4 separate regions of the Homo sapiens genome follow, and all the other regions are reported to be linked to region 1. The links are microRNA targets in miRTarBase. Many come from high-throughput screens and were not tested one by one. Region 1 holds a microRNA gene; each other region holds the end of a gene's coding sequence.
The links. The annotated mature microRNA hsa-miR-155-5p reads UUAAUGCUAAUCGUGAUAGGGGUU and lies in region 1 at 3,843-3,866, shown strand. An mRNA with a match to its seed (bases 2 to 7 or 8) in the 3' UTR can be bound and repressed. Matches are read on the target gene's strand: a 7mer-m8 pairs with bases 2 to 8, a 7mer-A1 pairs with bases 2 to 7 and ends in A, and an 8mer does both.

Region 1 (7,306 bases):
CCATGATGTAAACCAAAACTGCAGCGGCAGAATATAGAGAATCAGAATAAATTCTGATAGAAAAGGCAGATACTGTTTCCACATATACAAGTATATGCTAATTGCTTTTAGCAAACTGATCCAAATAGGAATCAACATTATTCCATCTTAATGATTATGTTTTTGATTGGTACACATAAATGTTAAAGTGGGAAAATATGCAGAGAAAGTTACCTAAACTAAATCACTTTAATTTTCAACAACATAATTACATTCCATTTCACCTACTAAAATGGCTTTGGACCTAGAATTTGTATTGCTACATCAATATAAGATGACTTTCAGTAAAAATAGATGTACAGTTGATTTGTAACAACAAATTAATAGTTTTAAATTATTTGTATATTTCAAGGTAAATAAAATTAGAGCTATCCCACAATCGCTTTGGTTATGAAATTCGACCACTGTAACTTTTTTTAAAGAAAACTTTATGGTGTGCAGTTCCTTTGGTATGCAAATATTAAATGGTTGGTGCTGAGAATAAGCAGCAATATAGAAATATATATAATTGTAGAAGAATATAACCTATGATTTAGACATAAAATGAGATCCTTACAAGATAAAGAGTTATGGAGATGGATGATAATGATAGTTGTAGAACATTATGACTAAGTGTTTAATATAGCGGACCTGTACACTTAAAAATGGTGAAGATGTTAAACTTACATTATGTTTACATTACATATTTCACCACAATAAAAAATTTTTGAAGGAAAACCAGAACTTTAATGACAAACTTAGGACATATTATGCTCTGAATATATAGTTTTGATAACGTCTTTCCTGGCAAATCAACAAGGTAAGAATAAAAGGATATTCTGAAATCTTTTTTTTTCTTTGGAGACAGAGTCTTGCTCTGTTGCCCAGGCTGGAGTGCAGTGGCACAATCTCGGCTCACTACTACCTTCTGCCTCCCAGGTTCAAGTGATCCTCCTGCCTCAGCCTCCTGAGTAGCTGGGATTATAGGCGTGCGCCACCACGCCTAGCTAATTTTTTTGTATTTTTAGTAGAGACGGGGTTTTACCATGTTGGTCACGCTGGTCTCAAACTCCTGACCTCATGATCCGCCCACCTCGGCCTCCCAAAATGCTAGGATTACAGGCATGAGACACCACACCCAGCCAGATATTCTTAAATCTTATGCTCACACTCCACCCCCCCCAAAAAAATTGTCCTTCAGGAAAGCATAATTTAAGGAAAAATTTCCCAAAGTGCCACCTTCAGCTTCATTCTTAGCACCAGAGGAAGAATTGCCTGTCATATAATGAAAGATCCTTGGTGTTATCATTAATCTAGTATACATAGTGCTTCCTCTTGGTAGATTTTTACCTACTGTGAGAAGGAATGATTTTGATACTCAGACAGTGTGTAGTAATTTGTTAAGAACATTTAACTTGGAACCTATGCTACACAGTAAAACTTATACTGACAATGGATATTTCATGTGGTAGGCCTAAGAAGTATTGTGGAGTGAGGGGACTGGAAGTATATCTGCAGAACTACCTAGTCAAAGACCCCAGTCTAATTTCTAATATATAATTCATATAAATTACTCTTGCATTGCTATACATTAAACATTATGCTTGTCACATTCTTACTTGGTTAGCACTGTCACTACTGATTGTCAGGCCTATAATTGTGTATAATTCTTCCCCTGCCACTTTACCAGCTGGTGGCCACACCGATTCCAGAAAGAACTACTTTATTTCTTATTACCTCATGAAAGCACCCTCTGCCCAGTGCCTTGGCTAATAGACTGGCCTTTGTTGTCTATGACCACTAATTCCCACTCAGGCATATAGCAATTCTGTTGTTGGTTGCTTAGCCCAGTCAAAAACACTGGAAGTGGACATAGACTCCACACTGATGAATGAATGACCTTCTAGTCATTCTAATGTCCTTAAAAGTCTACTATTTTTAAATTGTAGAATATATATATATATATATATATTTTTTTTTTTTTCTGGGATATTTCTCCTTTCTTCTGTTCATTAATGTTTTTCATCTATCATTGTGTTTTAAATATGACCTAAGGTTCTATAGTATATTTAGACAAACTTCTCATTTCTCTGCAGTGTTCGGAATTCATCATGCCTGTATGACAAGGTTGTGTTTGAGAACAAAAGGGGACCTGTGTGACATGTTTTATTTCAATATACATTTAGAGTTTGAACAAATAAAAAAAGCTATTAGAATTTTTAATATATATAACACATTATCAAAAACACTGTCACTTTTCTGAGTGCTCTAATCAGGCAATTCGTATGTATATTTAAAAAGAGGGAAAAAGCTAATTAGTATACTAAATATATTTATTTTAATACCTGTGCTCATATGTTATCTTTAAAGAACAGGAATAAAATTTATGGGTAGAATAGTATGCCAGCAATTTACCTTCAATACAAATTAAACACATCTTTTAAGAAAAGGGCGAGTTATATTGGCTGGGGTGGCACTAACACTACATTATTAATATGTATTTATTGAGCATTTACTGTGTCCAGGACCCTGTAAGGGGGAAAAAAAGTCCTTGTTTTTACAATCTTTATTGACTGAAATTCTGTAAAATGAATTGAATTCCTGAAGTGACATCATTTAACCCAAATTTTTTCATCATCAACTAATTCATCTCAGAAAACAGTAAAGTTTAAAAAAAAATACTATCAGTAAGAATAATATATTTCCTTGGTTTGGAAATTTCCAAACCACGATATTCTGCCCTGTCAAAATATATTCACTGGGGAATTTTTTACTTCATACGTTTCTTTTGAACTTAGTCACATTTTTATATCTAGCTGGTTTCATTATTAAATAAAAGAAAAGGTGATTCCCCTCTTGTACTGCAGGAGACCACATACTTGAATGATACTCTAACTTCTAGGTTCTGTTATAGTAACACTGAAATCAGAAACCTGTGGGAGAAATGTCACTTTATCTGAGAGAGTAAAATCAGACTCTAAAAGGAAGTAGCAAATTCATCTTGTTCTTTTTTTTAATCAACCCTCTGCCTAAGACAAGTAGTTTGAAACACAGAGGACTCTTTAAGTCATACTTCCTTTATGTAGTCAAAACCAAAGCCACTGGGTAGTGCTTTCCCCAAAGGAATCTCTAAATAGTAGACGGGGACATTTTCAGATAGATTCGTTTGTAGGCAAACCTCCATTGCTTGTATCACATTTCCTGAAAGAATAAAGGTAAAACTTCAACTATGTATTACAGAAAGAAAAATTCAGCCTGAACCCTACCCTTATAAAACAGGTTAATTGGGTTTTAATTTTCATAAATCATAAAGGACTATTTTGAACATTTGGGCCTTTAATTGTCTAGCTCCTAGATGAAGTACAAATCAGAAAAAAAAAAAACTGTACTGTGTCAGAATGCAAGCTTTCCTCTTTGCATTTTGGCATTTGAAAACTCCGAAGAGCGGTTTTTGTTTTTTATTTAAAGAAGATGATACATATGTGTACCCGATTCAAAACTAGAGAATAGAATTTAAAACATAATTTTCAAAGTCTTCAAATATGCCTAAAGGTAACAATGTCATCTTTTAATTGCCAATTTCTCTACCACTTTCAAAAAATTACTTCCAAGGATTTAATGAGCTCCTTCCTTTCAACAGAAAATGGACTATTTTCCTTTCAGATTTACTATATGCTGTCACTCCAGCTTTATAACCGCATGTGCATACACAAACATTTCTTTCTCTCTTGCAGGTGGCACAAACCAGGAAGGGGAAATCTGTGGTTTAAATTCTTTATGCCTCATCCTCTGAGTGCTGAAGGCTTGCTGTAGGCTGTATGCTGTTAATGCTAATCGTGATAGGGGTTTTTGCCTCCAACTGACTCCTACATATTAGCATTAACAGTGTATGATGCCTGTTACTAGCATTCACATGGAACAAATTGCTGCCGTGGGAGGATGACAAAGAAGCATGAGTCACCCTGCTGGATAAACTTAGACTTCAGGCTTTATCATTTTTCAATCTGTTAATCATAATCTGGTCACTGGGATGTTCAACCTTAAACTAAGTTTTGAAAGTAAGGTTATTTAAAAGATTTATCAGTAGTATCCTAAATGCAAACATTTTCATTTAAATGTCAAGCCCATGTTTGTTTTTATCATTAACAGAAAATATATTCATGTCATTCTTAATTGCAGGTTTTGGCTTGTTCATTATAATGTTCATAAACACCTTTGATTCAACTGTTAGAAATGTGGGCTAAACACAAATTTCTATAATATTTTTGTAGTTAAAAATTAGAAGGACTACTAACCTCCAGTTATATCATGGATTGTCTGGCAACGTTTTTTAAAAGATTTAGAAACTGGTACTTTCCCCCAGGTAACGATTTTCTGTTCAGGCAACTTCAGTTTAAAATTAATACTTTTATTTGACTCTTAAAGGGAAACTGAAAGGCTATGAAGCTGAATTTTTTTAATGAAATATTTTTAACAGTTAGCAGGGTAAATAACATCTGACAGCTAATGAGATATTTTTTCCATACAAGATAAAAAGATTTAATCAAAAAATTTCATATTTGAAATGAAGTCCCAAATCTAGGTTCAAGTTCAATAGCTTAGCCACATAATACGGTTGTGCGAGCAGAGAATCTACCTTTCCACTTCTAAGCCTGTTTCTTCCTCCATATGGGGATAATACTTTACAAGGTTGTTGTGAGGCTTAGATGAGATAGAGAATTATTCCATAAGATAATCAAGTGCTACATTAATGTTATAGTTAGATTAATCCAAGAACTAGTCACCCTACTTTATTAGAGAAGAGAAAAGCTAATGATTTGATTTGCAGAATATTTAAGGTTTGGATTTCTATGCAGTTTTTCTAAATAACCATCACTTACAAATATGTAACCAAACGTAATTGTTAGTATATTTAATGTAAACTTGTTTTAACAACTCTTCTCAACATTTTGTCCAGGTTATTCACTGTAACCAAATAAATCTCATGAGTCTTTAGTTGATTTAAAATAATTTTTATGGCCCATTTTCTTTTGCAAAGTACAAATTATAATTCCAGAAGCTATCTGCCAAAAAAAGACAATGGAAGAAAATTATGAGGACACTAAAGGGAACATTCCTGACTCCTAGGACACAGTATTCTCATGTAAGAATACCCATTTGGCTTTGCCCCACTTTCTGTTCAAGTTGTATGTGCTGCCAAGACAAATTTCTTCTCCTCACTTTCTGTTCAAGTTGTATGTGCTGCCAACACAAATTTCTTCTCCTAACACCTGGAATGAGCTTGTGGCTCCACGGAGCTCCCATGTAGGTAGAACACATTCAAGAGTGTTTCTTCAGGCCAGGCACAGTGGCTCACGCCTATAATTCCAACACTTTGGGAGGCCAAGGCGGGTGGTTCACTTGAGGTCAGGAGTTCTACACTACCCTGGCCAACATAGTGAAACCTCGTCTCTACTAAAAATACAAAAATTAGCTAGGCATGGTGGTGCGTGCCTGTAATCCCAGATACTCAGGAGGCTGGGGCAGAAGAATCACTTGAACCCAGGAGGTGGAGTTCACAGTGAACGAAGATCGTGCCACTGCCCTCCAGCCTGGGTGACAGAGTGAGACTCCATCTCAAAAAAAAAAAAAAGTGTCTGTTCAATTCATTTTATCTGCCACTGTATATCTACAAGAGGACTCCTTGCTTTGAGTCCCAGTTCTTCAAAATCCTGCTTGCTGCCTAAAGACACAAAGTCATAGAACATTAGGACTGGAATAAACTATTGTAGTATAACCTTCCTGCTGTTACAATAAAAAGCTATAAACATTACAAAGGCACTTAAAGAAAAGCTGTGCTGGGAAATGCCTTATTTGAAGAGCATTTGGGTACACTCACATGAAGCTTTGGAAAGTTACTTAATCTTCCTCTAAGCCTCAATTTCTTCATCAATAAAATGATGAATATATTTCATATTTCATAAGATGTAGGCTTAAATGAAATCATGCATGTGAAAAGCACAATGTCTATTATGCATTAAGTGTTAAACACAAACTTTCAAACTTTTACATTTCAGTCATTTAAATCAAATGATCTACCATAGCAGATCTCCCCAAAGACACTCTAGCTCCAAACTAACTATAATCAATCCCGTGGTGACGACCCAAAGAACCAGGGTTCCTGGGTTTTCTCTCACGCCCAGCCCACCTAGGCTTCTGACTGCCTATCTCCTCATCTTAGAGGGATTCCTCCTGACCAGTCATTACAAAAATTCTTGGAGCATGAGCAAGACTGAGTCTGTGTTTGGATTGGAGGAAGGGGTAAGTAACAAGGTATATATATGTATATGTGTGTGTGTGTGTGTGTGTGTGTGTGTGTGTGTGTGCGCGCGCGTTTGTGTTTAAGTTACAAACTAAGGATGGTTTTAAAAAATTGCAAAATGTTAAGAGATTTATCTAGGATCTGACCCACTTCCCCAGAAATTTACGGAATTCAAGACCAAGCCTTTCGTATTCACTGTCATCAGTTAGATGGACCCAGTAGCTAAAAAATTAAGGAGAAAAAAAATAGAGGAATATGAGGGAAAAAGTCAAGTCAGAGGACTGAAGAATATATACAGAACATAGAATATTAGAAATTTTCTGAAAATAGATGATAGCAAATACCTCAAGAAAGTGAGGAAACGTGAAAAGGGAGCTTAAAGAAAAATAATAGAGTCCATACATGGGACACAAGCACAAAAAGCTGACTGAGCATGTGGTTCTCTACTAATAATAACTGGAAAACAGTGAAACCAGCAGGAAAAACTTGCACATAAGAGTTTAACTTTCCACTTTGGGTTTCAAATTCTCCCATAGCAATAAGAGTAAGTGAAATAATGTTCACATAAGGATTTTTTTTTTTTCTATTACTGTAGTGTTTTGTTTTGTTTTGTTTTGGTTTTGGTTTTTGGTGGTTTTTTTTTTTTTGAGACAAAGTCTCGCTCTTGTCCCCCAGTCTGGAGTGCAATGTCATGATCTTGGCTCACTGCAACCTCCGCCTCCCGGGTTCAAGTGATTCTCCTGCCTCAGCCTCCCAAGTGGCTGGGATTACAGGTGCGTACCACCACGCCCAGCTAATTTTTTGTATTTTAAGCAGAGACGGGGTTTCACCATGTTGGCCAGGCTGGTCTCGAACTCCTGACCTCAGGTGATCCATCCATCTCAGCCTCCCAAAGTGCTGGGATTACAGGTGTGAGCCACCGCACCCGGCCTGTTACTGTAGTGTTTTAACAAATCTAAGTGTAATAGTATTAGTCTTCATTCATCT
Region 2 (7,306 bases), not on the chromosome of region 1:
ATGGAGCTGTGGGCTAAGAATAGTTTTTGCATTTTATTTTTATTTTTACTTATTTTTTATTTTCATAGGTTTTTGGGGGAACAGGTGGTATTTGGTTACATGAGTAAGTTCTTTGGTGGTGATTTGTGAGGTTTTGGTGCACCCATCACCCAAGCAGTGTACACTGAACCCAATTTGTAGTCTTTTATCCCTCATCCCTGTCCCAGCCTTTCCCCTTGAGTCCCCAGAGTCCATTGTATCATTCTTATGCCTTTGTGTCCTCGTAGCTTAGTTCCCACTTATGAGAACATTTAAATGGTTGAAAAAATCCTGAAATAAGAATAGTATTTTGTGACATGTTAAATTTGTATGAAATTCAAATTTCAGTGTCCACTGTAATTTGGTTTATGACATCTATGGTGGCTTTTGTGCTGGAACAGCAGAGTTGAGTAGCTTCAACAGAGACCATATGTACTGCAAAGCCTAAAATATTTCCTATGGAGCCCTTTACAGAAAAAGTTTGCAGACCCTTGTGCTAGCCCATGAAGGACCATGACAGCGTTTTGACGCTGAGCTATATAAGAGCTACAGTTATAGTGGCAACCACACAAAGGAAGTGCCTCTTAACAGAAACATTCCGCCCACCCCTATAGGAACTGCATTCTGAGTTGCAATACCCATTATAAGCAAGTTGGCCAGATAGTGGCCAACTATCTGGCAGATATCTGGCCAACTACGTGGCAGATAGTACCTGGTACATCCTTCCCCACTTTGGGGTCAATCTTGACCTTTGATCTCCTTGGGGTCATAAAGCCACACAAGTGTTAGTAGGCATTTCTACAGTGGACACAATGGATGATTTAGCCTAAAAATCTCAAAAGGAGCCCAGCATCCTGGCACATGCATGTAATCCCAGCTACTCAGGAGGCTGAAGCAGAAGGATCCCTTGAGCCCAGGAGTTCGAGACTAGCTTGGGCAACAATTGAGACCCCATCTCAAAAAAAAAAAAAAAAAAAAAAAAAGAGTGGGGAAAAAAGAACATTATTAAAAAAAAAAACCTTAAAAAGTAATCCAATCTACCGATGGTTTATTTTTTATTTTATTTTATTTTTTTTGAGATGGAATCCCACTCTGTCACCCAGGCTGGAGTGCAGTGGCACAATCTTGGCTCACTGCAACCTCCACCTCCTGGGTTCAAGTGAATCTCTTGCCTCAGCCTCTGAGTAGCTGGGATTACAGGTGCCCACCACCAAACCTGGCTCTTTTTTTTTTTTTTTTTGTAATTTTAGTAGAGACGGGGCTTCACCATGTTGGCCAGGCTGGTCTTGAACTCCTGACCTCAGGTGATCCACCTGCCTCAGCCTCCCAAAGTGCTGGGATTACAGGCATGAGCCACCGTGCCTGACCCACTGATGGTTTGAATTATTCTAAGTTCGCCACCGTCCAATCCTGTTTGCTCTGGGCTTTTAGGTTCTAAGCTGTGCCTCTGTCCATGTAAAGTCAGACCAGGAGGAATGGAAACACGAAACATTGCCATTGTGTTTCCCTTTGTGTTGCAGTGGTGGTCTCAAGGAAAACGACGTCATAATCAGCATCAATGGACAGTCCGTGGTCTCCGCCAATGATGTCAGCGACGTCATTAAAAGGGAAAGCACCCTGAACATGGTGGTCCGCAGGGGTAATGAAGATATCATGATCACAGTGATTCCCGAAGAAATTGACCCATAGGCAGAGGCATGAGCTGGACTTCATGTTTCCCTCAAAGACTCTCCCGTGGATGACGGATGAGGACTCTGGGCTGCTGGAATAGGACACTCAAGACTTTTGACTGCCATTTTGTTTGTTCAGTGGAGACTCCCTGGCCAACAGAATCCTTCTTGATAGTTTGCAGGCAAAACAAATGTAATGTTGCAGATCCGCAGGCAGAAGCTCTGCCCTTCTGTATCCTATGTATGCAGTGTGCTTTTTCTTGCCAGCTTGGGCCATTCTTGCTTAGACAGTCAGCATTTGTCTCCTCCTTTAACTGAGTCATCATCTTAGTCCAACTAATGCAGTCGATACAATGCGTAGATAGAAGAAGCCCCACGGGAGCCAGGATGGGACTGGTCGTGTTTGTGCTTTTCTCCAAGTCAGCACCCAAAGGTCAATGCACAGAGACCCCGGGTGGGTGAGCGCTGGCTTCTCAAACGGCCGAAGTTGCCTCTTTTAGGAATCTCTTTGGAATTGGGAGCACGATGACTCTGAGTTTGAGCTATTAAAGTACTTCTTACACATTGCTTTCTGTAGTGCTTATTTTCCTTTCCCAAGAGCAGCTTGTTGCAGTCTTTTTGGAATGATTCTAATGTCAGTGGGCCCCTCATTAGACTGCATTGTCCACGCAGGTTTGAGCTCTTAGTCTTATGAGTTATTTCAAAATCATCCCATGGGATTTACCAGGGTTATGAACAACTCTGCTTGGACACCCTGGCTTTATGAAGCAGGACTTGAGGACAGTTGCACTCGCATCCGGAGCTTGTCAAATGAAAGAGAGTCTGTTGACCTCATACAGCATGCAATTAGTCAACAAAGATTTTCTGGGTCTCTGCTCTGTGCCAGGCATTGTAAGTGCGTGGTCAGTGAGAGCAGGAAAGACGCAGGCTCTCCCTCTGTAGAGCTTCAGTTCAGAAGCCAAGTCTCTTTCTGAAAGGGAGACAGCTCAGGAGACCAGGATGCAACCCCAGAATGGGCCCAGAATGCACACGGCTGCAGCTGACCTCATTTGTCCTGGGTTGTGAAATAAGAACTAGGCCTTAAGCCTTGGTGAGTTTAGAGGAGGACTCCCCTTGAAGTGCCCTCAAACAGGTACAGCTAGAAGCAGCTGTAGGCACCTTTATCTCCATGAAAGCTTTCCGAAAGTTTGGGAAGCTGACCCAAGAGGACTTGCACAGCTTTAGCTTGGAAGTTTGCACAGACCTATGTCCCTGTGGGGAGCACACACCAGAGAGTATGCTGTTTATGCCAAGAGCAGCGGGTCAAAGCTTTCCAACTGTCAGCAGTTAAAAGGAGGGCCTTGGACCGGATGGAGGTTCTGTTCTCCCAATTGAGAGCTGAATCCTTCCTCCATCCACAGAGGCATAAGGTCCAACTCATAACTGGGGAGGCTGCGGAAGGCCGAAGGGCCAACTTAAATGCAGGGGCGGTCCAGTTGAGCACAGCCCTCATCAGTGTTGGTGCTCGGCGGCTGAGCAGCTTGTGGCCCGTTGCAACACTGGCACGTCTCTTCGCTCTCTGGTTGAATGACCTAGTAGAGTCAGGAAGGAACCAGCGAGTCCTTTGGCTGTGGGAGTGTGTTTTGCATTCCCTCCCTTCTCCATTAAAGGTGATGACTCAGAATGGCTTGTGGCTTCAGGGGTTCATTCTCAGATGTTTTGTATGTGGGCCTGCTTTCCTGTGTGGTCCCCGGAGCTGAGGTGCTGCCACAGGTGGGGAGGATGCCGTGGGTGGCATTGAGGTCAGACCCAGCCCCGGCCCGAGCCTGTCTGTCTTCAGCCTGTTAGGCATCCGGGAGATCACTGATGGTTCTTCTGGAAGAAACTAGCCTGGTGATGGACCAGCCTGAGGCCTCTGTAAACACTCTGCAACATCTCTGCAGGACACTGGATGGGGTTGGAGTTTTGCCTGCATATATGGTCACATACAGGACAGAAATGGCAGCTTGCCACATTGTTGCATATGACATGTTTGGTTACATGGTTGCACTTACCCATGAGACCCTGTGTCCCATGGGGGCTGCTTGTCCTGGAACCCCCACCTCACATTTGAAGACCTCCAGAATAGTTGTTTCTTCTGCTTGCTTTAGGCTGTGATGCAGGGTTTTGCAACATAAATTAGTCTTAAAGCCTGGAGGCAGAGCACTGAGTCGAAAGAGCATGGCTTTTGGAGTTATAGATGGATTTGGGTTTAAATCCAGTGTCTATATATCTTACTGGCTGTGTGACCTTGAGCAAGTCCCTTAACCTCTCTGTCTGTTTTTCATCTGTAGAATGCCCTCAGTTGGGTCCATCTCTGCTTCCATGGAGCTCAGTTTCTAATTCTTCTTGGCCACTTCTGGTCCCTCCAAGGTCACTTTAACAGCCCTCTGGCTGGTGGGCCCGCACCTGCCCCCTGTTCTGGCTCCTGGAGAACTTCCTGCTTACCAAATGTGGGCTCAGCAGTGCCTCTTCCAATCCCAGCACCCTCAGCTCTAGTCCTCTGCTTCCAGCTTCTGCAAAACTGTGAGCCAACCACATGGCTGGGCTTCCCCAGCACATCTGCATCACGTGACTATCCCCATCCCGCCCTGCCAGATGCTTCTCTTGATGCACTGGCCAGCAGAGAGGCCCTGGTGTGCAGGGGTCTCCTTGCTGTGTCTTTCAGGCTTGGCTGAGTGAATCTGAGATGGGCAGCTCTCTACAGGGAGGTCCTCTGTCTTTTTTTTTTTTTTTTTTTGACAGGGTCTCGTTCTGTTGCTCAGGCTAGAGTGCAGTGGTTTGATCATGGCTCACTGCAGTCACGACCTCCCGGACTCACGTGATCCTCCCACCTCAGCCTCCAGGGTAGCTAGGACTACAGCATGCACTGTCATGCCCTGCTGATTTTTGTAATTTTGGTAGAGGTAGGGTCTCGTCGTGTTGCCCATGCTGGTCTCAAACTCCAGAGCTCAAGCGATCTGCCCACCTCGGCCTCCCAAAGGCAGGAGCCACCATGCCTGGGGGGTCTTGTCTTTTCTGACTCCATTTCTCCATCTGAAAATTTGGAAGAATGCTCCTGTCTGGTGGGCGTGGTGAGGAGCAGCACATGTTGTTATCAGAACCTGCACAGTGATTGTCTCCACCTGGTTAATATTTTAGACAGGTCTGAACCTTGGATGATAGCATTTCCATGGGCTGGCAAGGATGCTTGGCCCATTTCAGCAAATACCACTGAAGTCAGCGCCAGGCCTCGCTGAGGTTGTGTGGACATATATCTGGGTGAATGGGCCAGTCCAGTTCAAGTTTGCACCCCTGAAGGTGGTTATAGGTAAGGTCAGAGGTATGACAGAGTCAGAGTGGCTCAGTGCCGGGAGGGCAGGTAGGTTTCTGCCATCCATCCTGCCAACGCTGATCCATTGGTGGGAACCATCTAGAGCACTGGGCTGAGGCAGATTGTGAGGCTCAGTGTGAAGGAGCTTAAAAGAGACCTGTGGCCGGGCGTGGTGGCTCATGCCTGTAATCCCAGCACTTTGAGAGGCTGAGGCAGGTGGATCAAGGAGTTCAAGACCAGCCTGGGCATCATGGTGAAACCCTGCCTCTACAAAAAATACAAAAATTAGCCAGGTGTGGTGGTGTGTGCCTGTGGTCCCAGCTACTTGGGAGGCTTAGGTGGGAGGATCACTTGAGCCTGGGAAGTCAAGGCTGCTATGAGCTGCGATCTCACCATTGCACTCTAGCCTGGGTGACAGAGAAAGACCCTGTCAAAAAAAAAAAAAAAATGGAGACCTGCTGTCTGGGTCTCCCTCTCAGTTCCCTGACCTTCTGATGAGGTCCCTGCTCTGGGTGTGTGTCCGGCGTCAGCTCCCTGGTTGAGTCCGGGGAGTAGCCGAGGCTGAGGAGTCTGGAGCAGGCTCGTGGGAATAGGCGGGCTGCCCTGGGGGCTGCTTTTTGCTGCACTGCGCCCACCTCCAGGGTAACTTCCTCAGGAGATGGGACTCTTTTCTATCCTTGAGGCAAGAGGACAATCAGATCTCTCTTGGAGAGCCATTCCCATTTAGAGACACGTGTTTTTGGTGACCTTTGTGAGCGTTCTAGCCTTGGAGCCCTGCTCACTGCTGCCCTGGACCAGCTGGGACAGGTGCGTGCATTGATTAGCATTCTGGAGCCCAACAGGTGGGCACTGGAGGCTTCCTTGCCGTGGTAAAGGGAAACCGGTGAGAGGGGGCGTCATGTCATCCAGGGGAGAGGAGTGATGTTAACAATAGAAATGGCAGTGTCACATAGTAAATGCTACCGTAGAATGAGTGTGGATGTGGCGTGCAGGGTGTGGAAGGTGGCAGCAGGCGCTGTCGCTAAGGCTTTCTGTGGCAAGCACAGTACAAGCATTTTACACACATATCTATCTCACTTAGTCCCCTCAGTAACACCAAGGAATAGAAACTATTATTATACCATTTTATAGACGAAGGAATGAAGGCTCAGAGAGATTAAGTAACTTGCCCAAGGCCACTCAGCTTGTCTCTGGCGGGGGTAGGACATGTCTTTGTGGGGAAGTAGGGAGGAGAGTGGGGAGAGTGGGGGCCCCAAGTCCCTGGCCTGGTGTATCTGACCAGAGGAGACAAGTGCTCCCATGTCTGGGACAGGTCAGGAGCACACAACTCCGGCTTGCCTCATCCCCAGCCTCCCTGGAACAAGACTAAACACCTTTCTGGGACATCTGAGCCCCTTCCTGACTTGGTCCCCACTTTCCTTCCACTCTCACCTCTCCATTCCTCTCCTGCTCTCAATGTTCTGTCATGTGGAATTCACTTCCATTCCTTGAACAGGCTGTTCTTTCTCCTGTCTCCACACCTAAATCCTAGTACCCTCCCTGCCCCGTGCATGGAAGCTCCTCCCCATCTCTTCACCATCTGCCCCACCGGACTCCCCTGCCAGGAGCTCGCACGCTGGCCATGTGCTGTCCTAACTGCCTGTTCCCTTGTCGGGACTCACTCTGGGGCTGCAGCTCCACAGGGCCAAGTCCATCATTGAGGCCATAGGGCTGAGCCCAGCCTGCAAAGCAGGTGTCAATCAATACGGATTAGCTGACAACTGAGGTGGGCCCACACCTCCCTGGACAGTCACATCTGCCACTGGAGGAAAGAATCCTCTTAGCACGCATTCTTTCATGGAATCCATCTTTTTGCATAACCACAGTGCACCCAGGACTGTGCTGGGCATATTGGGAGTGGGGGTGTGAGGAGGGGGTGAGGCTGGGGAGGGACAGAGTGGGGCCCAGAACAGAAGGAGGCCAGTGGGGTGCCCAGGGGCTAAAGCAAAGGGGCCTCACTCTCAGAGTAGTGCAAGTGGGTGGTTTGTGAGGAATACACAACAGGACCTGTGAGAGCCTCACATGTTGACCTCGGAAGGGAGGGGGACCTCAGGTGGAGGCAAGAAGGGATCTCTGAGTCTACCATTGATCCCCTCTTTCAACAGCTGCTCTCAAAACCACTGCGGGCAAGGCCCAGTGGCGGGAATGCTCCTGATCGTGGGTTCAGTCCCGGCTCTGGGCTTTACTGACCATGACACTTGGGGCAAGTCCCTTAATTTCGCTGAGATTCCTTGTCCTCATCCGTAAA
Region 3 (7,306 bases), not on the chromosome of region 1:
AGACTCAAACATTCGCAGCAGCTCTGCAATCCCAGAGGTCCGAGCACATCAGTCTTCTGTCCTCCCCAGAGCAACTGCCCTCCACAGCCATGGCGACTGCAGTGGCTCGGCCCCTTGCAGCAAGGCCAGAGGCTCAGGTTGCCATGGCCTCACTCCTGGAAACCACCTGAAGGTGCAGCCACCCTGTATAAACCCATCAGGTGACATCTAACTTGGCAGAGAAGTCCTACCCTTCCCTCCATGAGAGACCACAGCGGTAGCCCTGGGGATCCTGCTTCAGCTGTGAGATGATAGACTGACGAGCCTGTGACCACTTCTCCCTCCATCATGAAGTGGTGCAAAGTACATTTATTTTTACAATGAAAGCTCATCTATGAATCTGATAAAGGCCTTCCTTCAACTGGAGACAATTTGGGATGTTGCAAAACAAGGTTTGGGAAGCCCTTCTATGGATCGGTTTTGTGTCCAAGTCTGTCCCTGCCAAAAGCCATCAAAAGTCTCCATCACCCCTGGGCTCCAGTCTGCTACCCCCAGACTTGGCAGCTGGGATCTCTCCTTCCTGGTTCATAGTTCTCATTCCCACCCCTCAGCGATGGAGTTAGAGTTCCAGGCCCACGTGGTGAACGAGATTGTGAGTGTCAAGAGGGAATACGTAGTTTATGATCTGAAGACCCAAGTCCCACCCCAGCAGCTGGTGCCCTGCTTCCAGGTGACGGTGAGTCAAGTCGGGAGGAGGCCGACAGAGGGCTGCTGGAGGCGGGTGGGAGTGAGGATGCACGGCCAGAGGCCAGGCCCCATGCCCCCGATGCCCACCTCCTTCCCCCCCGCCGGGAAGGCCCTGACTTTTCCCCTTCCAGCTGAGGCTGAAGAACACGGCGCTCAAGTCCATCATCGCTCTCTTGGTGCCTGCAGAGGCACTGCTGTTGGCTGACGTGTGCGGGGGGTTGCTGCCCCTCCGGGCCATTGAGCGCATAGGCTACAAGGTGACATTGCTGCTGAGTTACCTCGTCCTCCACTCCTCCCTGGTGCAGGCCCTGCCCAGCTCCTCCTCCTGCAACCCACTGCTCAGTAAGCCCTGCTCCCTTACCCAGTCTGCCCTGTTTCTCCCCGGTCACCCACTGGTGCTCAGCTCGCTGGGCACCAGAGACACAGGGACTGGCCCCTGAGCATCTCCCTGTGCCCTGCCTCCCCCAGTTTACTACTTCACCATCCTGCTGCTGCTGCTCTTCCTCAGCACCATAGAGACTGTGCTGCTGGCTGGGCTGCTGGCCCGGGGCAACCTTGGGGCCAAGAGCGGCCCCAGCCCAGCCCCGAGAGGGGAACAGCGAGAGCACGGCAACCCAGGGCCTCATCCTGCTGAAGGTGGGCAGGGGCTGGGGGGTAAGGAATGAGGCCTAGGTGCACACCTAGGGCTGGGGTGAGGGCACGGAGGTCCAGGTGTGGGTAGAGGCCCCTTGCATCCACCCTGCTGGCTCTCCTGTCCCTGGTCTCCACCATGTCCTCCTCCCTTAGAAGAAACAGGTCTGGGGCAGGGAGCAAGCTGAGCCTCCCTGAAGTCCCAGGTGACCTCAATCCCCTGATAACCCATGCCTTGCACAGCCTAAGAGGGTGTTTCTTCAACTGAAGATGGCCTGAAATGGGCCAGACCCAAATTTTCATCAGCTGAGAATCTAAGAAAGGAAGCGATACAGGCTGATGACCCCTGGGGTTCGCTCTTCCGCTCATGTTGAGGGGACCTTGAAGAACAGCTCCTTTCCCTGTATCTCTCCCCACAGAGCCCTCCAGAGGAGTAAAGGGGTCACAGAGAAGCTGGCCTGAGACTGCTGACCGCATCTTCTTCCTCGTGTATGTGGTTGGGGTGCTGTGCACCCAATTCGTCTTTGCAGGAATCTGGATGTGGGCAGCGTGCAAGTCTGACGCAGCCCCTGGAGAGGCTGCACCCCATGGCAGGCGGCCTAGACTGTAAAGGGGCAGGGCCTGGGCTGCACACCTTAGGATGAAGTTTGCTTTCCCATGGCTGGGGGCGGGCCATGACAGGGCCTCTGGATTAAGCCACCCTGAGCTCTCCCTCCGCTAGCACACAAGCACAGAGCGTGAAATAAACCCATCTCCAGTGCAAGTGTGCCTCAAGGGTCAGTCTTCAATCTCGTCCTAAATAGGTGGGGCCCTATTTTTTGCTTCCAACCCCCATTTTGCTCCTTAACTTTTCCCCATTGTCCCTGTCTCCCAGCCCACAGGCAGGCAGCCTAATTGCTCCTTCTGCAACCACGACTGCCTGGCCCTGGGCCAAGAGGCACTGAGGCTGGGGGCCAGAGACAGGGGCCTGAGGAAGGCTGTAGAGGGTGGGGCGGAACTCCTCCTCCGAACGCCTCCTGCAGTGTGCTGGACTCTAGGGAAAATGGCCAGTGAGCCTGCCTCCCCCAGCCACCTAGGGGACTCCTGGGAGGGAAAGGTCCCAGACCTCAGGCCTGTGGGCGGGCGGGAATGTGTTTTAAGAGAGGGGGTCAGTCCCGACTGCCTTTCCTCCAGGAGCTCTGGCTGCTTCTCTGAGCCCTGCCACATCTCTGGGCTGTAGGGGAGTTCTCTGTCCCCACCTCTGACCTAGGCTGGAGGGAGGGCCCTTCTGCCCTGCTGCTCTTGGTACACATGGAGCAGCAGTGGGCACAGGCCTCTGTCTTCCTTCTCTCTTTTCCTGTTTCAGAAGCCATCAGGGTCATAAAAGCCAAGGTGTGGAGGGACCCCAGGCTTCCGGGAGAGTGCTGGTTCGGCTGGGAACACGGGCTGTGGGGAAAAAGCAGGAGCCAGGACTAGGGGGCTCAGGGACACAGCTCCCGGAGGCGTGGAGACAGGTCTCTGTCCCAGAGGACTTCAAGCTCACCCAGCCCAGAGGCAAGCTAACACTGGTTTATCTGTCCAATGACACGCCAGTCTGGTGGAACCAGGCAGGGCTAGCAGCAGGCTCAGGCAGAGGTGTCGAAAAGGCGATCGATCATGTCGCCCACCTGCTCCACCCCGTACTTGATGTACTTCTCCGGGTTCTTGGTGAAGGGCACGCTGCCAAACCTGAGGAGGCACTGTGGTCAGGGGACAGGGAGGGCCGACCCCTCCCCAGCTCCACCCTCAGCCTAAGGCACTCCTGATAGTCTTGGAAGGGGTGGCCCTGAGCGATTCCCTGTCTGGCCCCGCCCCAAAGCCCAGGTCGCTGGATCTGCTGCCTAAATCCACCACCCTTCTCCTTTTTCCCTTGAGGAAGAGGAGCTTGAAGAGGCCCACTGGGGCTGTGGGCAGCACAGGCTGGGAGGGGAATGGAGGCCTCACTTCTGTAGAAAGGCCCCGTAGGTCTCCTTGACAATGGTCTTCTGGGCCTGGCGAATCCTGTCCCTCTGCTCTGTGTCTGGAATAGCCCAGGCCTTCTGGATTTTGCACAGTTCTTCGAGGCCATCATTGAAGCCCTGGCCACCAAAAAGGTGAAAAAGGAAGGCACCCAGAGACAAACATTTTGGGTCTGTGTTGCCTCAACAGCAGCAGCAAGCAGTGGAGGGGAGAGGACCCCGACTCACCTTAAAACGCTCCTTGATAATCTGCCGCTCCTTGTCCCGGAGCTGGGAAGCCAGGAGAGATAGCAGAGAAAGCTCACTTCAGAGCAGAGCAGCCTTCCCCCACTCTTCCCCAAACACCCTTGGTCTGGGCCTGTCTCCTGTGTCCTGATGGCCACATGCATCCTTTGCTCTCTGATCCCAGAGGGATGCTTGTCCACTTTTTCCCAGAGACACGACAAAAAGTATCCCGTCTGCCAGACACCCCTTCCCAGCCCAGGTCTTGAGCCCACCTTGACTCCCGGCTGGAACACAGGTAGATTCTTCTCTGCGATGTAATCAGTCACCTTTAACCAGCTGCCAGACAGAAAGAGAAGCATGAGGGCAGAGGGTGGCCTGCCTCAGTGGCCTGGCTTGTTTCGTTTGCTAAATCTCTGGATCTACTTGGTGGGTGGTGGTAGGAAGGGATGTGGGTCACAACTAAGCAAACAACAGGTTTTCTTCCTGGGAAGAGAAAATCTTTAAACTGGTCACTTTTTGAGATAACATTAGGAAACACTTGAGTGTTCAATAAATTGGACAAATACTGTCAACTATACTTCACATCAATATCGTGGCAAACTAAGATGGAGAAACAGATGAGAAAGAAAGGAGTGGAGGGCAGATAAATGAGAAGGAAGAGGTAGACACATTCAAAGGGAAGAAACAAAGCCAGGAAGAAAGAGGACCAGAGAAGCAGCGGGATCCTCACAGAGCAAGGCTCAGCCACGTTCAAGTGCTCTCGCGACCTTGCTCTTCTCCTAGGTAAACATTACCCACGTCTCTGAGAGCCAGCTCTTCAATCATTCTTAGCCTTGACACTTGGCAGACTCCCCTCTAAAGTGGCCATAGTGGGCCCCTAGGAGCAGGTAGTGGTAGAGGAGGGGGCTTCTCTCTCCACCCCGTGAGTTTGATTAGAAACCAAGTGGAGGATTAGGGTCCAGAGGACAGGAGTTCCCCGTGACCGACTCTGTGTCCTGAGGTGCTGAGAAGGAAGAGTGCGTGGTGGCACAGGGGCCCATGCAGGAGCAGGGCGGGCCCAGCCTCTCACCTGCGCTGGTAGGTCTGGATCTGCTGCTCAATGTGCTCCCGGTAGGAGCGCTCAGCAGTCTTCTGTGTCACTGCCACCAGCTGGATCAGTTCAGACCTGGGTCGGGGTAGGGGACAGAGGAGAGGAGGACAGGATTGGCTCCTCAGGCCCAAAGGCTGCGGCAATGCCGGGAGGGCCTCCCATTGCACCCCAAACTCCACAAGCTCTATGGCATCCCACCTTCCGGGTCCTGGGGTGGAGGAGACTGAAGCACCCCCTCCCCTCTCGTCCACAAGAGAAGGAGCCCAGGGGGGCAGGGGCTGGCACAGCTGCACAGCCGAGGGGAAGGTGAGAGCCGCAGACTCACTCCCGCAGGCCACTTACTTCTCCAGGGACTTGAGGATGTAATTGTAGTTGTTGTGCAGGAAGATGGCGCTCAGAGCTGGGTCCTCGTACACCTTGGACTTGCTCAGCAAGTTCAACTGCAGGTTGCCCAGCACTTTACCTGCACAGGGAAAAATGGGGCCACACCCACCATGGCAGTCTGACCCAAACGACCCCACCCCAGGACCCGCGAACGCGCTCCTATCCATCGCTCCTCGTCCTGCCTCAGGAGGCCTTAGCCCAACTCCCCTCAGCCTCTGAACTAGAGGTCAGGTTGTGGTTCCAAAGATCAGATGGCACTTAGGAGAGGGCCCTGGGAATAGCCAGAGAGCACAGACAGAAGGAAGGGAAAGGCAGGGCATGCAGGCAGCAGGGCTGCTGGTCTGCCCGGGAGAACACTCACAGATATAGGTGCTTAGCAGCCGCTTGCTGAACTCAGAGCTGTAGCTGGTGGCCGAAGAGCTGGTCTCTGTGAGAGGAGAAGTCCTGTTATTGCAGTGGCAGCAGCCAAGACCCTCAACGGCCCTTCCCCCAGGCCATGCAGCAGTCTGAGGGGACACTGAGACAGGCCCTGGGCTTCCTTGGGCAGAGCTGGCTGCCTGCTAAGCCACAGGGTGGCCCCTGCCGCAGGAAGCACCAGCCCTGGAGTTTTTGGAACCCAGAGCTGCCCTCTATGATGGGATGGAGCTGGCCCATGTCAGCAGAAAAGCTGGCAGGAAAAGAGTGAGATGCCAGCGCCCTGTCCCCTCCTGCCCCCACCCACCCTGGGTGGTTTCTACAAGGCCCCCTTTTTCCTTTTGTCAACAGCAGAGTCTTAGAATGGGCTCCCCACAGCCTCTCCACCTTCTCCCCTACATTCGAACATCCCCTCTACCAGACCCTACTGAACAGACGAAGCTGCGGCCTGCACAGTGGGGAAGGCCGAGTGGGGACAGCAAGGCAGGGAGGCCGGGCGAGCCTAGGGGGTGTATCCAGGGCTCTAGCCTGGGCAGGTGCTGCGGATAAGCTCAGAGACAGAGTGGCCTTGAAGGGAGCAGAGAGAGTTGAGAGCACCCCGAGAAAACTCATGTCCCCTCTGACTCAGGCTCCCCAGTAGGTACTGAGAGTCAGTCCCCAGGGAACCTCACCCACCAAGCTTCAGAGGGACAGGAGGGGGCTGCAGAACCGCACTGCTTACCTCGGGGGTCTAAAGGAATATTGTATGTGTCCCCAAGAACTACGGAGTGAAAGGCAGTGCACACAGAGGGGACAGAGGGAGAGACAAAGGAGGGAGAAAGATGCAAAGTGCAAAAAACAGGTTAGAAACGGCATGTCAACCCGAATTAAGCAGACCTCTCCCCACGACAGCCAAAACACAGATAGCAAGACACAGCAGGCGGGACCCTCTGAGGACCAGGGAACACCCTGGAAAGTAGAGAGCTGAGAACTGCAGGCTGGAGGCTGCCCACAGGCTCCTTGCCCCCAAAATGGGACGGGAGGAGAGGGCCCAGGGACCTCAGTGCTTGGAATGACCCAGAAAGGTGCTCTTGCTTACAGGCCAACCCCCTGAGCTCCAGTCCCAGGGCAGGGCCAGCAGGAAGACGCCCAGCGGGCCCTGAGACACTTGCTACCCTCTGAAGGCCAGCTGAGCGAGCCTGATTAGGAGAGCAGGCAGACACGAGAGAAGGATTTGGGAGGGGGGCAGGGGCAGAAAGGACACCTTCCAACCAACCAGCACCGCTCCCAGAGTGAGGACACTGCTTCCAGGGCGAGGACGGTCAAAGGGGCTGAGGGAGGGGCCAGAGGTCCAGTGTCTGGTCTTGAAAGGTGCAGGCAAACCTTGCTCTCCTGATGCTCAGCCCCAGGGACCCTCTGCTGAGCACACCTCAACCCCTCCACAGACTGGAGATACCTCCTCACTGCTACCTGCCCTCTAACCCCATGTCTCCAGGCAAGGAGGCGAGTGGGGCAGGGGGCCCAACTGGGAGGTACCAGTACCTTGGGAGGCCAGCATGGCGCCTGCCGTCTCCTGGAAGTCCAAAAGCTGCTGCAGGAAGAGGATGGCCTGGGTGGGAAGAAAACGGTGCAGAAGGGCAAGTGGCAGGCCCGGCCGACGGCCTCCCACAGCGACCCCTCTGAGTGCCCAGGGCCAGCCCAGGGCTGGGATCCGCCCAGTGAAGAGCGCGGCTGGAAACTTCATTTTCACTCTAGCCTGCCAGGAAAGGCCCTGTCTGCTAGAGACACTAAACATGTCACTGTCCATCCTGCCACCCAGGACTGCTCACAAAGGTGCGAGCGGCTCTGGGCCAGGCTGAGTCCCTTCCACCAGTACTCTGCC
Region 4 (7,306 bases), not on the chromosome of region 1:
ACCAAGAACATTGGAATATCCCCTTTATTATCCTGAAGTGAAATTCTTAGGTAATATAACTTCTGTACACACATATTAAAAATTAGTTCAGTATAAAGCCCTAACTGTAATAGGGGGATATAAAAGGAAACATTTTTAGTAAGAAGATAATGTATTTCAGTATGTAGTAGTTATCCAAGAAGTAAAATGGTTGCACTAAACAGAATCACCATGAATGTTAACAGCTACAAATGCAGGCTGATGTGTGTTTATAGGTGTGACAGGCGTGTTTTACCGGTGACTCAGAAATTAGGGGCAGCATTGCCGTTGGTCAAGTGATTTTCCAAAATAGGTAACAGTTCTTGGTAGAGTTTTGAAAAGGCAAAGTACAGTCTTCTCTTGACTTACACGATAGTTGTATTTTTGGAAAAATTGATGTTTATTGAAGCTGTACAAAAATGCTTTGTGATTGTATGTAAAATAGAATCGTTCAAGTAATTCTGAAAAGGTTGTTCACCTGTGTGGATACCAGGATATCAGGTGGGACATTCAAATGTTATGAGGACATGGGAAAGTTTTTTCTTTTTCTTCTTGTTGTTTTGTAGAGACGGGCTCTCACTATGTTGCCCAGGCTGGTCTCAAACTCCTGAGCTCAAGCAATCCTACCACCTTGGCCTCCCAAAGTGCTGGAATTACAGACACAAGCCACCGCACGCAGCCATGGGATGGTTTTTTTAAAAATTAATTTTAGTGTGGGATAGTTTTTGATTGCACAGGATTGTCCTGAGTATGTAGCGTCCCTGGCCCCCTCCCACAACCTTCACTTGCTAGGTTCTAGTCATTGTGACAACTAAAATTGCCTCTGATTTGTAAAGCACCTCAGCAGGGGCGGTGCTGCCCCATGGAGAATCACTGGTCTGGTGCAGTTCACCGGCCCTGTACCTTAGTGTCAGCAGTGTTCTTTGCCTAGTGCTTACTGTGTGTCTAGTCCTGGGCTGTTTACCGATGATGTAGCTCATTTTTATCCTCACAATAGCTAAGTGCTGTTGCTGTTATGTAGTTGCAGTTGAGGAAACTGAGGCTTAGAGAAGAGAAGTTACTTGGCCACAGTCATACAGGAGAATCGGTGGAGTCCAGGTTGGGTTTCAAGTCTCTATCACTCCACACCCCCTGTCCTGGCTGTTAGGTTCTGCCAGTCCCTGGGGCTCAGAGAGAAGCGACTGAGGGAACAGGAGCCCTTGCTAAGTCATGTGAGGGAGAATGTGGTGGCAGAGTCCCAGCCAGCAAGGAGAAGTAGCCCTGAGACATGCTGCTTTTGTTTTGTAACCTCTTCTGTGAAGCACTGGTGGACTGAAGTCAGAATGGGAGCCCTCAGGAATCTCCTTCCTGGGCCCTGGGCCTTGTGCACCCAGGGTGGATGGGTAAGGGGCTCTACTGGGCTTGTTGGGGAGCTGTGCCCCTGCCCAGCTGGGTGCACCATGGGTGGAGGGCTTGTGGATGGGTAGCCCTAGCTGGCATCCTGAGGGCCTGCCGCCTGCCATCTGCCCTGCAGCCCTCACCTGCGCCTCTGTTCTTTAAAGGGGTGCTCCTCCTAGGGGAGCCGGTCCGCTGGGAGACCAGCCTGCAGCTGATCATGGATGTCCTCCTCAGCAATGGGAGCCCTGGGGCTGGCCTGGCAACACCCCCCTACCCCCACCTCCCCGTCCTAGCCAGCAACATGGATCTCCTGTGGATGGCTGAAGCCAAGATGCCCAGGTGAGGACACAAAGCTCCCAGCCTTGGCCTGGTGGTCTATTCCTGGCTGCTGCCTGGGCAGTCCTGCAGGCAGTTCCCATCCGTCCTGACACCCCAGGTGCCGGGACCTCACTTAGGTAGGCCCTGTTGTTGCTGCAGTAACCTGGCCTTTGGAAGGGCTTTCAAGGACCACTCCACATATTAGTTACTAAACCTAAACTACAGATTATGGAGTCTGAGGATGTATTGAGAGGATGTTTCACACGTGACCCCTGCCCCCTGTAATCTTTACAGAACATGCTCTTGGTGTCTGGTGGATCCCAAACCGTGGGCACTTTTTGTACCGTATCTGTGCACATTATTCAGTTGCTCTTCCTTCCTTGGCTCCATCCTGTAGCATTGGTTCTTTGACTTTCTGGTTTCCTTTTACCCTTCAGACATAAGGCAGGAGGAAGCAAGGATTTGTCGTTTTTTGTTTGTTTTGTTTTTTTTGCGGGGACAGTGTCTCACTCTCTCATCCAGGCTGGAGTGCAGTGGTGCAGTCATAGCTCACTGCAGCCTTGAACTCCTGGCCTCAAGTGACCCCCGTGCCTCAGCCTCCAAAAGTGCCGGGATTACAGGCGTGCTCCATCATGCCGGCCAAGGATTGTTCTGATAGTCGTATAGACCAGAGAACTGAGACCCAGCAGATAAGTGGCTTTCTCAGGGGCATGCAGGTGCCTATACTCCCTGCTCAGCTGTGTTGGTGTCATGTGTCCTGTCTTATTCTGGGGCTAGCACAGATAGAGGCAGCCCTTTTTTGGCCTCAGGGTGCTTACTTGAAGGCCAGCTGACAGCTGCTGTGTACTGTTCGGTTGCTGTTATCTGCATGGCCAGTCTCTTGAGTCTCAGCCTGCTGTTGACCCCCAGTCGACAGTGCTCGTCAGCAGAGGGTGGGCACGGCCCAGTACTGCCTCAGGGCCCGTCTCAGTAGTCCCAGAGAGACGGGGTATGGTATGCTCTTGTCACTTTTAAAGTGTATGTCTGTGGCTCGAGGCTTGGCATTGTCTCTGAAGTATTATTCCTAGAGGCGGGTATGCTGACACTAGATCAGTGGGCTTGGTTGGTTATGTCTCTGTGAACTGAAAAGCAAGGGGCAGATTTCAATTTACAAACCAGATTTTAGATGAACTTTTCTAATTAAAAGTAGAATTATTTACATAAATGACACTGAAAGATGTGGTGGCTCATGCTTGTAATCCCAACACTTCGGGAGGCCGAGGTGGGTGGATCACCTGAGGTCAGTTCAAGATCAGCCTGGCCAACATGGCAAAACCCCGTCTCTACTAAAAATATAAAAATTAGCCGGGCATGGTGGCAGGTGCCTGTAATCCCAGCTACTCGGAGGCTGAGGCAGGAGAATCACTTGAACCCAGGGGGTGGAGGTTGCAGTGAGCTGAGATTGTACCCAAGCGCCAGCCATCATATCAGCATTCCAGGTGTCAAGAAGGAGTTGGGGAGGGCAGAGAGGGCAGAGAAGAATACCGTCCCCAGTTTGTTTGTTTTTTTTTTTTAGATGGAGTCTTGCTCTTTTGCCCAGGCTGGAATGCAGTGGTGCAATCTTGGCCCGCTGCAACCTCCGCCTCCCGGGTTCAAGTGATTCTCCTGCCTCAGCCCCCCAAGTAGCTGGGACTACAGGCATGTGCCACCACACCCAGCTAATTTTTGCATTTTTGGTAGAGACAGGCTTTCACCATGTTGGCCAGACTGGTCTTGAACTCCTGACCTCAGGTGATCCACCTGCCTTGGCCTCCCAAAGTGCTAAGATTACAGGCATGAGCCACTGCGCCTGGCCGCCTGTCCCCAATTTTAAGGATGCTTATTGAAAATTTAGCCCAGCATTTCTGCTTTCCTTGACTGTAGCTTAGTCACATGGCCACGCCTCGCTGGCAGGGAGGCAAGCGAAGGTCTTTTTCACACCTAGTGGCAATATGGTCAGCTGAAAATGGACACCAGCAAAGAAGGGGAGAAGCGCAACCGTAGTCTGCCTCAGCTCTACAGCAGGATTTAAGCTCTGGAGTCAGACTGAGTTGTAATCCTAGCTCTGCCCTCTTGAACAAGTTACTTAATCTTGCTGTGCCTTGGTTTCCTCGTTTTACAAATAGCGTCATCTCATAGAGTTTTTCTGAGAGGGAAATGTGAAATGCTGCCTCCAGTGCCTGCACAGTGTCTGCTACATGTCAGCTCTTACCCTGGGGAAAAGGCTGGTCTGTGTGTTTGCTGCTTAGACAGTGGCAGTCGTGTTCTCTAGAAGAGCCTGGAGATCAGGAAGACTGAACTGCTGCGTGCTCGTTTCTGGCAGGTTTGGACATGGCACCTTTCTGCTGTGCCTGGAAACCATTTACCAGAAAGTGACGGGCAAGGAGCTGAGATACGAGGGCCTGATGGGCAAACCCAGCATCCTCACTTACCAGTATGCCGAGGACCTGATCAGGCGACAGGCGGAGAGGCGGGGCTGGGCCGCCCCCATCCGGAAGCTCTATGCTGTGGGGTAGGCTCTGCTCTCCCTCCTTTGTCCCTTTTATGACATCCCCTTCTCTCCCTCCTCCTCTACTCTCACCCCCATTTCCCTATATCTAATTCACTCTTCTGCCCCGAAACTCTTCTCTGCTCCCTTTGCTTTGCAACATTGATTTAGGGTTTTTTCTCCTTTTTCCTTTTCCGGTGTGGCTGCCCCTGCCAGTGATAACCCTATGTCTGACGTATACGGCGCCAACCTGTTCCACCAGTACCTGCAGAAGGCAACGCATGATGGGGCGCCAGAACTAGGGGCCGGGGGCACACGGCAGCAACAGCCCTCAGCAAGCCAGAGCTGCATCTCCATCCTGGTGTGTACAGGCGTCTACAATCCCAGGAACCCACAGTCCACGGAGCCTGTCCTTGGAGGAGGGGAGCCTCCATTCCACGGGCACCGAGACTTATGCTTCAGTCCAGGGCTCATGGAGGCCTCCCACGTGGTGAATGACGTGAATGAGGCTGTGCAGCTGGTCTTCCGCAAGGAGGGCTGGGCTTTGGAGTGAGGGCAGTGCGGTGGAGGTGAGGGGGTGAGCCTGGACCTGTGGGCGAGTCCCATTGGCTGGGCTCTGGCCTGATCACTGGGCTCAGGTCAGGGCTTGGTTCCCTTGCCACCCTTCTTGCTGCCCCATGAGTGTGGCATTACTGGTCACTTGGAAGAAGACAGTGACTCTTTTTCCCTGCTGGGTAGCATTTTGTATGGAACGGTTGGAATTTTCTGGGCCCAGTTCCCACGTGCCTTTCGTGGCAGTCTAACCTCAGGCCATTCTCTTCCCCTGTGTGCCTCAGTGTCCTTCTCATTTCAGTAGGGACTTCTGAAATGGGGGAGGCAGTGTGGAATACTGTGGATGTCTGTGCAGAGCCTTTGCCGGCACTGAAGGCATGCAGCCTGTCGGCAGAGTGTCTTAACACCAGATGCTACTTTTTACTGTATTGTAGTTTATTGCCCGGAGATGTGGGGCTTTTTTTTTAAATAAAATAATCATAATAAATGTTCATGATGCTGACTCTTGTGAAGCTCTGTCTGGAGTGCACTAAAAGTCCTGTGGGGAAAGGAGGAGTGAGTGGTGTGGGCGGCCCAGGGTCTGGGAGATGGGTGGCATTTCAGCTCCACGAGGTGCCCACATCTCCTTTCCTACCTCCCGCCCCCAAGTCCACACCCATTCTGGGCTGTGAAGCCTGAGGCTGTCTATGAATGAGTATGCCTGGCTTTGGCATATACTTAGCAACTTCCCTGGTGTGGAAAAGAAGAGGGATCTTGTTACTGGTTTGTTCTAAAGGAAGCAGCTCTTCCTGCAGTGATTCTAGAAAACATGCCGCTTCTTGCATCCCTTCCTCTAGGAGTAACCAACTTCATTTCTTCATTTGTCTGTGTCACCCATGGCCTCAGCATCTGCAAATCCCCCAGTCAGTTCTCGTCCTCATTTTACTCCAGTAGCTGTTTGTGTTTGACATAGCTGATGCCTCCCTCCCTTGTTCTTTTTTTATTTTTTAGAGACGGAGTCTTGCTCTGTCACCCAGGTTGGAGTGCAGTGGCACGATCATGGCTCACTTGAACCTCCCGGGTTCAAGCAATTCCACCTCAGCCTCCTGAGTACCTGGCACTAGAGGCACATGCCACCACGCCTGGCTAATGTTTTTTTTTTTTTTGGTAGAGACAGGGTTTCACCATGTTGGCCGGGCTTGTCTAAAACTCTTGGCCTCAAATGATCTGCCTGCCTTGGTGTCCCAAAGTGCTGGCATTACAGGTGTGAGCCTCCACGCCCGGCCTCCTTCCCTCATTCTTAAAGCCCTCTTGGCTCTCTCCACCTGACTACTCTTTTTTTTTTTTTTTTTTTTTTTTTGAGATGGAGTCTCACTCTGTCACCCAGGCTGGAGTGCAGTGGCATGATCTCGGCTCACTGCAGCCTCCACCTCCAGGTTCAAGCAATTTTTGTGCCTCAGCCTCCCGAGTAGCTGGGATTACAGGCGCCCGCCACCACGCCTGGCTAGCTAATTTTTGTATTTTTGGTAGAGACGGGGTTTCGCCACGTTGGCCAGGCTGGTCTCAAACTCCTGACCTCAAGTGATCCACCCTCCTTGGCCCCTCAAAGCGCTGGGATTACAGGCGTGAGCCACTGCTCCCGGCCTAACTGATTTCTTTTTTTTTTTTTTTTGAGACGGGAGTTTTGCTCTTGTTTACCAAGCTGGAGTGCAGTGGCATGATCTCGGCTCACTGCAGCCTCCACCTCCAGGTTCAAGCAATTTTTGTGCCTCAGCCTCCCGAGTAGCTGGGATTACAGGCGCCCGCCACCACGCCTGACTAGCTAATTTTTGTATTTTTGGTAGAGACGGGGTTTCGCCATGTTGGCCAGGCTGGTCTCAAACTCCTGACCTCAAGTGATCCACCCTCCTTGGCCCCTCAAAGCGCTGGGATTACAGGCGTGAGCCACTGCTCCCGGCCTAACTGATTTCTTTCTTTCTTTTTTTTTTTTTGAGACGGGAGTTTTGCTCTTGTTTACCAAGCTGGAGTGCAATGGCGTGATCTCGGCTCACTGCAACCTCCACCTCCCGGGTTCAAGCGATTCTCCTGCCTCAGCCTCCTGAGTAGCTGGCATTACAGGCACGTGCCACCACACCCAGCTAATTTGTTGTATTTTTAGTAGAAATGGGGTTTCACTGTTAGCCAGGCTGGTCTCAAACTCCTGGCCTCAGGTGATCCGCCTGCCTGACCTCCTGAAGTGCTGGGATTACAGGCATGAGCTACCGCGCCCGGCCCTCAGCTGATTTCTTGACACCTTTGCTTGGATGCCTCAGAGGTGTTTAGAGGTTAGGGAGCAAAGGAGGTTGAGAGAGTGGCTATGAAACAGGAGAGCCGGTGTCTTGGAGGCTGAGTGGCTGAGTGCTGAGGAGCTGTGCTCATTCCCTCGGTGTAAGTGTTGCTGTGTCCACGACCAGACACTGAGCGCAGTCCACACCTCCTGCTTAACTGTCTTCCCCAGCTTAGGTGGCTGCAGCAGCTCCTTCCTCTCCTTGTCTAGGCCGAGGGCCTGGCGTCCTG

Region 2: the mRNA of HTRA1 is a reported target of hsa-miR-155-5p. The part of its 3' UTR that is shown has no 7-base or 8-base seed match.
Region 3: the mRNA of EXOC7 is a reported target of hsa-miR-155-5p. The part of its 3' UTR that is shown has no 7-base or 8-base seed match.
Region 4: the mRNA of HDHD5 is a reported target of hsa-miR-155-5p. The part of its 3' UTR that is shown has no 7-base or 8-base seed match.

The regions. Positions count from the first base shown.
Region 1 is chr21:25,570,141-25,577,446 of GRCh38, forward strand. It overlaps MIR155 (microRNA 155), which reads left to right and starts at 3,840; the gene lies at 3,840-3,904. MIR155HG (MIR155 host gene) reads left to right here. Exons shown (of 3, transcript NR_001458.3): 3 at 3,753-5,028. RefSeq lists a silencer at 3,784-3,963 and enhancers at 5,515-5,664, 6,057-6,106.
Region 2 is chr10:122,512,653-122,519,958 of GRCh38, forward strand. HTRA1 (HtrA serine peptidase 1) reads left to right here. Exons shown (of 9, transcript NM_002775.5): 9 at 1,539-2,255. The coding sequence ends at 1,707. Among named protein-coding and RNA genes, the nearest start is that of DMBT1, 44 kb to the right of the region's middle.
Region 3 is chr17:76,080,688-76,087,993 of GRCh38, forward strand. It overlaps EXOC7 (exocyst complex component 7), which reads right to left. Exons shown (of 19, transcript NM_001013839.4): 12 at 6,967-7,033; 13 at 5,393-5,458; 14 at 4,990-5,110; 15 at 4,627-4,722; 16 at 3,830-3,893; 17 at 3,561-3,602; 18 at 3,319-3,452; 19 at 329-3,063. The coding sequence ends at 2,961. It overlaps ZACN (zinc activated ion channel), which reads left to right. Exons shown (of 9, transcript NM_180990.4): 6 at 591-715; 7 at 858-1,068; 8 at 1,195-1,362; 9 at 1,776-2,119. The coding sequence ends at 1,966. Among named protein-coding and RNA genes, the nearest start is that of ZACN, 5.2 kb to the left of the region's middle. RefSeq lists an enhancer at 1-322 and a silencer at 407-607.
Region 4 is chr22:17,135,487-17,142,792 of GRCh38, reverse strand. It overlaps HDHD5 (haloacid dehalogenase like hydrolase domain containing 5), which reads left to right. Exons shown (of 8, transcript NM_033070.3): 6 at 1,560-1,734; 7 at 4,055-4,243; 8 at 4,436-5,273. The coding sequence ends at 4,772. Among named protein-coding and RNA genes, the nearest start is that of LINC01664, 18 kb to the right of the region's middle. RefSeq lists enhancers at 3,741-4,447, 4,448-5,155.